Linked DNA regions of Homo sapiens. The protein of the gene in region 1 interacts with the protein of each later gene in a pairwise test. Each region holds a gene or a part of one and is shown on either strand. Other genes may lie near its edges.

Evidence for each region. Proteins that work in one complex are often made in the same cells at the same time.
Region 2: the proteins of NUP37 (region 1) and NUP160 interact in a two-hybrid assay, tested with the Homo sapiens proteins (one study listed by BioGRID).

The regions. Positions count from the first base shown.
Region 1 is NC_000012.12:102,071,760-102,076,104, forward strand, and holds the end of NUP37 (nucleoporin Nup37), read right to left. Parts: intron 3,336-4,345; coding exon 3,242-3,335; intron 2,709-3,241; coding exon 2,595-2,708; 3' UTR 1,344-2,594; downstream 1-1,343. UniProt on the Homo sapiens protein: Component of the Nup107-160 subcomplex of the nuclear pore complex (NPC). The Nup107-160 subcomplex is required for the assembly of a functional NPC.
Region 2 is NC_000011.10:47,838,293-47,842,774, reverse strand, and holds part of NUP160 (nuclear pore complex protein Nup160), read left to right. Parts: intron 1-1,087; exon of another isoform or gene 1,088-1,531; intron 1,532-2,186; coding exon 2,187-2,397; coding exon of another isoform or gene 2,398-2,547; exon of another isoform or gene 2,548-2,709; coding exon 2,710-2,932; exon of another isoform or gene 2,933-3,274; intron 3,275-4,482. UniProt on the Homo sapiens protein: Functions as a component of the nuclear pore complex (NPC). Involved in poly(A)+ RNA transport.

The DNA.
Region 1 (4,345 bases):
AACATGGTCCTGTAGCCTACTTTTAAGATCTAAAAAAAGAAAAAGAGGTTAGAGTTCTCAATGCTTACATAGGATAAAGTACATTTCACTCCTGAAACTAACAGGTAAAGGCAACCCTCTCATTTCTTGAGAATGTCTTATCTTACAGTCACTATATTAATCCACAAATGGAATCACTATTTTCTTCTGAGGATAACACTTCCTGCCTCTTTTTGGCATAACAGTATACAATCATCATGAGTTATCTTTTCCCAAAACAGCTTCCCCTACTAAAAGATAGAAGTTCTATTGGGTATTTTTTTTTTTTTTTTGAGATGGAGTCTTGCTCTGTCACCCAGGCTAAAGTGCAGTGGTGTAATCTTGGCTCACCACCACCTCTGCCTCCAGGGTTCAAGCGATTCTCATGGCTCAGCCTCCCAAGTAGCTGGGATCATAGGCACGTGCCATCACGTCCTGCTAATTTTGTTTTTGTATTTTTAGTAGAGGTGGGTTTTCAACATGTTGGCCAGGCTGGTTTTGAACTCCTGACCTCAAGTGATCCGCCCACCTCGGCCTCCCGAAGTGTTGGGATTACAGGCATGAGCCACTGCGCCCAGCCCTACTGGGTAATTTCATCAGACAACTTTTATATTTTGGTTAAGCCCTTATTCCAGAGAATCCATTTCTTATATACCCAAGCCCAACATAATCATCTCCTTAATTTCCATCCCTAAATAAAACCCACCCACTTCATGCATCAATTTTTCTAAGTATATGACAACAATTTTTGAACACACTAGCCTTAGAGATGATTTTTATATTTCTTGGACATATCCTGAAATGACAAATTCTTGTAAGAGTCACTATTGATAGCCCTTTGGCTATCCTGATGCTTTTAGGAATCCTTGCCCCATCACAGAGATTCTTAAAGAGAACCATGTCAAAATTCCTTGCTCTTTGCTTTTTCCTTTGTTAGTTCAAAATCTTCTTATGAAGGGGTAAACAAAACAATTTATATCATTTGGTTATAATATTTAACTGTATTAAAAAATTGACTAGGAAATTGCTATAAAATTTTTCATCTGTACTTTAAAGCATGTAAAAGTTGAACCCAAACATCTACATGGTTATAAAATTTCACTGAATTCTTTCTTTTAATTACCTGGAACATTCTCCTATCTCTTAAAAATATAATGTTCTTGATTCTACAATTATTTTAAGACACCTTAAGAATAGAAAACTGGAGTAAAAAATATTTACTGGCATTAAACATAAATCTCTAAAACCTCAAAAATAAGACCTACTCATCTCTGAAATAAATAATTTCTATACATCTCTGAACCACGTGACAGACACATACTAGGTATTTTCATTCACCTTTATTTAATCTTTACAGCAACTCCACAAAATAATGATTCCTATCTGTACTTTACAAGAGGAAATGAAGCTTCAAAAAGGGCATTAACTTGCAGGAATGGGCAGTTTGTCAAAATGTATTGGATTCTGTATGTGACTGACAAGCAGAACCATAATTTTATATGCTTCTGACTGTACCATGATGTATCCCAAAAATGTGATACAGCTGTCTTAGATAACGTTGATTTTAATGATCTTTGAGAGGGTGAACACAGTTCCATTGCCAACAGGTCCCATCTCAAAAACACTTAAGTTTCTTGGTAAGAACAGTGAAAATTCACAAAAAGGAGGCTGTTAAAGGTATACACTAGAAGTCATTTTTCAAGGTAACTTTTGATCCCATATATCAGATGTTCTAAGACTGTTAGAACACCTCGTCCAAAGGAATCTGCGTATAATAAACAGGGTTGAGCAATATAATCAATCACATATTTAAGAAACTGAAAACAATTTTTTACATTAAATTGAGTACACATACACATATATATACTCAACAACCACTTCCAGAATACCCTAAGATATTTTTTTCTCCTTGGATTTTTTTTCTTTTGAGATAGTCTCGCTCTGTCGCCCAGGCTGCAGTGAAGTGGCACGATCTTGGCTCACTGTAACCTCTGCCTTCCAGGTTCAAGTGATTCTCCTGCCTCAGTCTTCCAAACCATGCTTGGCTAATTTTTTTTATTTTTATTTTTTTAGTAGAGATAGGGTTTCACCATGTTGGCCAGGTTGGTCTTGAACTCCTCACCTCAAGTGATCCACTCCCTTCAGCCTCCCAAAGTGTTGGGATTACAAGTGTGAGCCATTGTACCTGGCCTTTTTTTCTCTTTTGATAAATGTGTCCCTGAGAATTAGAAAAACAGCATATACTCAAAGTATAGAAAACAGGATACACTTCAAATACTCCTTTTTTGATAAACTCAAAAGCATTATTTTTCCTTAGTCATCTCTTCTCTGGAGGTGAGCTGCTGAGTCAATATGATTTTGTAAGATTAAAAATATATATATATACACACACAGAGAACAGAGTAGAAAAATAATTTTTCAAACCATCAACATTTTATTTAATAAAAGCAACTGAGACATTTTCTAAAGTATACGGTATATTTGATATAAAAATTCTTCAAAATATGTACTATAGAAATTCTTCAAAATATGTACTAAAAATACAAAGTTTGTGAATCTAAGGTACAGAAAACACTTTATACTTCAGTCACCCAAAACAACAGCTTGTGGTCTCCTCCAATTACACACAGAGGGAGAGTTCGATGCCAGGACAGTCCAGATCCAACGGCTACAGAACCCATGAGGATGGGCTATAAAATATGTGAAGAATTAAAGAAGCACAGTAAGTCCCCAAAATTAATAAATAAAAATGACTTTCAAAAATATGAAATGCATTGATGATTTATCTTTGTAGCATAAACAAAATTTAAAAATATGCTCCCTTACAGGTGAAATACACATTATTGATACGCAGCTGAAACATGGGATACAATCCATCTATGAATAACTGGTACAGTCCAGACTCCATTTTTGCAGTCTACACCAACCAAACAAGCAAAATTAATGTATTTAAATAAAGAAGAAAATATAAAAGCAACAGAATAAAAAGCTTCTTATATGAATACTGGCCAAAAAAACCTGTTGTCACTGGTAATGTAAACATCAAAAAAAAACCACACAAAAAACAAAAACAAATGAACCACCTTTTCTTGCAATTTAAGCAGATAACAAACGTAAATGTCTTCAGTCAACAAATTACAAATTTGGGGCTATGAGTGGAAAAGTCAAAAACACAAATTAAAAAAAAAAAAAGCACGTATGTTACAAAACATTTCCACATTACCTGAGGGTGTCCTAAATGATGAATTTGAAACTGGCTTGCCATTTTGCCAGGATAACCAGTGGTTGCAAACAGATTTTCACTAATTGTGGACCACCTAAGAAATAAGGAAGCGTAAAATTAAGTATCGTATCCTATGGATAATGACAAGCTTTTCTGAAGCGGGCTTTTTCTTTTTCTTTTTCTTTTTTTTTAAGAGACAGGGTCTTGCTCTGTCACCCAGGCTGGAGTGCAGAAGTGCTAACAAAACTCACTGTAGCCTCAAATTCCTGGGCTCAAGTGATCTTCCCACCTCAGCCTCCCTAGTAGCTGGGACTACAGGTGTGTACTACGATGCCCAGGTAAGTTTTAATTTTTTGTTTTTTGTAGGAATGGGGTCTTGCTATCTTGCCCAGGCAGGTCTCAAACTCCTGGCCTCAAGTGATCCTCCTGCCTTGGTCTCCTGAAGTGCTGGGATTATAGGTATGAGCCATAGCACCTAGACAGAAACAGGTTTCTTTTTGTATAAAACCAGTGATTTTAATAATCCTAAATTTGTTAATATGTCTTTACAATTAGACCGGGAATTCCAGGAAAATATTCCATAAATATTTTCTCATACTTTAAGTTTTATGAAGTGCTTATTTTGTGTCATTTCATTAAGTTCCAAAGTTACACAAGGTTGATACAATCCTTTTTTTCACAACCAAAGGGGTAATAGTGTGGTAGAAGAAACAAATAAGGCATCAAATATGACAGCCATTCTGCCCCTTTTCCATGCTAAGTGAAGCCTAACTTTGTTCAGGGCACAGTGTGTCCTACCCTAGGGGATGAGACATAATTAGTTTAAGGCAGTCATAGCAATCTCCCATAAAAGGAGAGGGTTCCTTCTTCTCCTCTTACTTTTTTTTTTTTGTTTAATTGTTCGGCAAATGGAGTACTTCTCTTATGCCTGGAACTCTCACAGCCATCTTGTAACTATGAAGCAACAAGTCCCAATCCTTGACACTGAGAATAGCAGAGGGAAAGGATGAAAAGGGTCTGAGCTCTTGATGACATTGATGAGCTGCTCAACAAGCCCTGAGACTACCTCCTCTAGACTTATAAGTACCATAGCTCATTGATTTT
Region 2 (4,482 bases), on another chromosome or scaffold:
GAAGAAATCCTCCTGTCTTGGCCTCCCAAAATGCTGGGATCATAGGCATGAGCTATTGTACCTGGCCCTGATACTGAAATCATTAAGAATTATGGTGAGAGTAGTGTGGGAGAGAGTGACAGTGGGCCAGGAGCTAAAATCAACTGCAGTGAGCATGGGTAGCAGGTGGTATCTGATTCCATGAGCTTCAGAGCTGAGTGATTCGGGTAGCAGAGGAGGAACAGTGGCCTAGAATGCCAGTGGGGAACAAGGACATCTGTATGTTTTCCTTGAGGCCCCACCCCAAAGGGCATGGTAGAGAAAACTCTGGGGTCACTGTCCTCACGGGAGATCCAGGATCCAACTTTAACCGTAAGGCAGGAAAGCGAAGGAATTATTCAGAGATGAGGTTGAGGATCCAGAAAATTGTGCTGATGCCGTGAGTTACCAGAAGCAAAGTAGCTCTGGGAAATCATCAGCGCTGAAAAGGTACTTACATCCTTGGGAGTAGATAAGATGTGCCTTGGGAGAAAGTGTACAGTGAGAGAAGATGGTCCAGGATCAAGGTTTGAGGAAATCTAGCATATAGGGGTCAGGTCAAGGAGAAGGGGAAGAAATGGACAGGAATGTGGGAGGAAAACTGGGAGAGGGTAGTATCATAGGATTCATGAGAAGAGACTGTTTAAAAAGGAAGGCAAGGTCACATATGTGGAATGCTGCTAAGAGATCAAGTAAGAGGGCCAGGCATGGTGGCTAACACCTGTAATCATGTGGAATGCTGCTAAGAGTCAAGTAAGAGGGCCAGGTGTGGTGGCTCACACCTGTAATCCCAGCACTTTGGGAGGCCGAGGCAGGTAGCACTTTGGGAGGCTTGAGGCCAGGAGTTCAAGATCAGCCTGGCCAACATGGTGAAACCCCGTCTCTACTAAAAAATACAAAAATTAGCCAGGTGTGGTGGTGCACACCTGTAGTCCCAGCTGCTGAGGAGGTTGAGGTGGGAGGATTGCCTGAGCCCAGGAGTTCGAGGCTGTAGTGAGCTATGATTGCACCACTGCACCCCAGCCTGACAGAGTGAGACCCTGTCTCAAAAAAAAAACAAACAAACAAACAAAAATTATCAGATGGTACATGCTCCTTAGAGCCCTCAATCTCTCGAACTAGAGCACGTTCCAGGATCACATGGCCTTCCTTGTAACACTGGCTGTCTTCGGTGGCAAACTCGTAGATCCATCCCAGTTTGCTGCTGCAGTTTTTCAGCTCACATGTTGGACCATGTGGTGGCCAGTGAGCATGACCCAATCTAGAGCTTCATTGTACTGCAGGTTCACTACCTTGTTAAAAAGAAATGCTCTGCCAGTGGCGCCTGTGAACCAAGTGGAGATGAATTCTGAGCGGTTGGTCAGGATTGTATCACAGTTTGCATAAGAAAATGGACAGGTACCACGAATATGATCAAGGAAAATTCTGCCCATTTTTATGGCTGAAGTTCTAAAAACCCTGTGCAGCAGTGAGATCTGTGGCTGCCAGTGGCTCCTTGCTCCTCAGCTGGGATTAATAAACAAGCTCCTTTTGGGGAGGGTGGGGGAAAAAAGAAAAAAATAAATAAACAAGCTCCTTTTGAGGAGTAATAATGAAAGTTAGAATAGCTTAGTATAGAAACTAACCCTGATATGTTCAATTTGCGAAGGTATTTTTATATTAAAATATTTATTTTTGTAATATTTTTGCACATACATGTAAGCGCATGTATAAAATTGCTATTCTGTGTGTGTGTGTGTATATGTGTGCGCATGCATGCTATTGCAGGTTAAGAAGTAATAGAAACAGGAAATAACCGCAATTATTAAGGTCAGTTTTGTTTGATGCTGTAGTATATATGGAGGCCACATTCCACTACAAGCAATGGCCGGGGTATGGTGTTAATTTTTATTATAGTAGAGTTAATTGCATAAAATATTGTCCTAAATAAATGGCCTATCAAGTTTGGAAATGTCTCTATGTAACAGAATCACAGTGAAATTTGGATTTTGTTATGCTGTTTTTTATAAATGTACATAATGTGATTTGGCATGCAAAAGTGGTCCAAATCTGTTTATCCAAAATTTTCAAATTTGGTGAGTTCACTTGGACACTGTTCTCATATATTTCAGTAGAACAGTCAGTGAGAAAAGCATAAACTTTTCAAACAAATGTCTCTTTTTCAACAGGAAGACCTCTGGAGATACATTGGAGCTGATGGAGGAGTCACTGGACATAAATCTGTTGAATAATGCCATTCGCCTAAAATTCCAAAATTGCAGTGTTTTACCTGGAGGGGTTTATGTCTCTGAGACTCAGAATCGTGTGATAATCTTGATGTTAACCAATCAAACAGTGCACAGGTTACTTTTACCACACCCCTCCCGGATGTATAGGAGTGTAAGTTGGCTAAGTGCAATATCTTTTATTTCCCAAATTACTCTGGGTGTCACAAATGTAGTGCTGGAGCGATGTCTTTTGGAATTGAAGGAAATTTGGATTCTCGTTATCCCTCACCAAGCATACTTTGATAGCTACCGCTTAAAATGATCAGGCATACATTTTAAGTTGAGAATTAGTTTTCATTAAGAAGAATAGCTTTCTTAAACTTGACAGTTTTTTACTTTAAAAACTTTTTTAGCAATAGAGAGGAACTGAGCAAAATTCTGGTTATTTTGATTTAATAGATTTTTCTTTTTAATTACTCAACAGGAGTTGGTAGTTGACAGTCAGATGCAGTCAATATTCACTGACATTGGAAAAGTTGATTTCACAGATCCTTGCAACTATCAGTTAATTCCAGCAGTACCTGGAATATCTCCTAATTCCACCGCCTCTACAGCCTGGCTCAGCAGTGATGGGGAGGCCCTGTTTGCCTTACCATGTGCTTCTGGGGGAATCTTTGTTCTTAAGCTACCTCCTTATGACATACCTGGTAAGAATGGGAACTGAGCATGGATTTAACTTTAAACAAGGAATGTTAACATTGAAACAGTTCAACCTCGTCATCCAATGCAGGGATTGCATCTCTACTGCCCCGGAACTGGTCATTCATTATTGCTTGCCTAATGAGTCCCTAATGCTTTACTTTTATACAGTGGATAAGGAACTATAAAGCATATTGGAGCACGGAAAAACAAATAGACAAGTATAAGACAGCCTATTCTAAATCTTGTAGTAGAGATGGGTTGCCTAATTGTCTGCCCTGAGATGGAGGCATTATAACATTATAATTAAATTAATTGAAACAAAGACATTAAATACCCTGCACCAAGTTGCCACTGTGTCTTGCCTGGATTATTGTATTAGCTTTCTATATATCTCCCCAGATCTGTCTTAACCCTCTTCAGACACTTCTCAGGTGGACTGATATATTTAAAACCCAAGGGCCAGGCGCTGTGGCTCACGTCTATAATCCCAGCACTGTGGGAGGCCAAGGCAGGTGGGTCACCTGAGGTTGGGAGTTGGAGATCAACCTGACCAACATGGAGAAACCCCGTCTCTACTAAAAATACAAAATTAGCTGGGCATGGTGGCCCATGCCTGTAATCCCAGCTACTCGGGAGGCTGAGGCAAGAGAATCGCTTGAACCCAAGAGGTGGAGGTTGCGATAAGCCAAGATCGTGCCATTGCACTCCAGCCTGGGCAACAAGAGCGAAACTCCATCTCAAAAAGAAAAACCCAAGTTGGGTCATGTCACTGCACTGTGTAAAGCCGTCCTTTATGTAGTGCAGTGACATGACACAACTTTTCTTTTATTCTTTTTTTTTTTTTGAGATGGGATTTCTCTCTGTCGCCCAGGCTGGAGTACAGTGGCATGATCTCAGCTCACTGCAATCTCCACCTCCTGGGTTCAAGCGATTCTCCTGCATCAGTCTCCTGAGCAGCTGGGATTACAGGCATTTGCCACCATACCCAGCTAATTTTTGTATTTTTAGTAGAGACAGGGTTTCACCATGTTAGCCAGGCTGGTCTCGAACTCCTGACCTTGTGATCTGCCCACCTCAGCCTCCCAAAGTGTTGGGATTACAGGCTTGAGCCACCGCACCTGGCCTTTCTTTCTTTCTTTTGAGACAGAGTCTCACTGTCACCCAGGCTGGAATGCAGTGGTGCCATCTTGGCTCACTGCAACCTCCGCCCCCCCCAGGTTCAAGTGATTCTCATGTCTCAGCCTCCCAAGTAGCTGGAATTACAGGTGTCCACCACCACACCTGGCTAATTTTTGAATTTTTAGTAGAGATGGGGTTTTGCCACATTGACTAGGCTGGTCTCGAACTCCTGACCTCAAGTGATCCGCCTGCCTCAGCTTCCCAAAGTGCTGGGATTACAGGTGTGAGCCACGGCACCTGGCCAACATGACCCAAGGTGGGATTCAAATATATCATGTTATGCTGAATAAACCCAGAGTCCTTACACTGGCCTAGAGTGACCCACTGCTGTCTCCAACTTCATCTGTTCACTCTTCCCCTCTTCACCAGCCACATG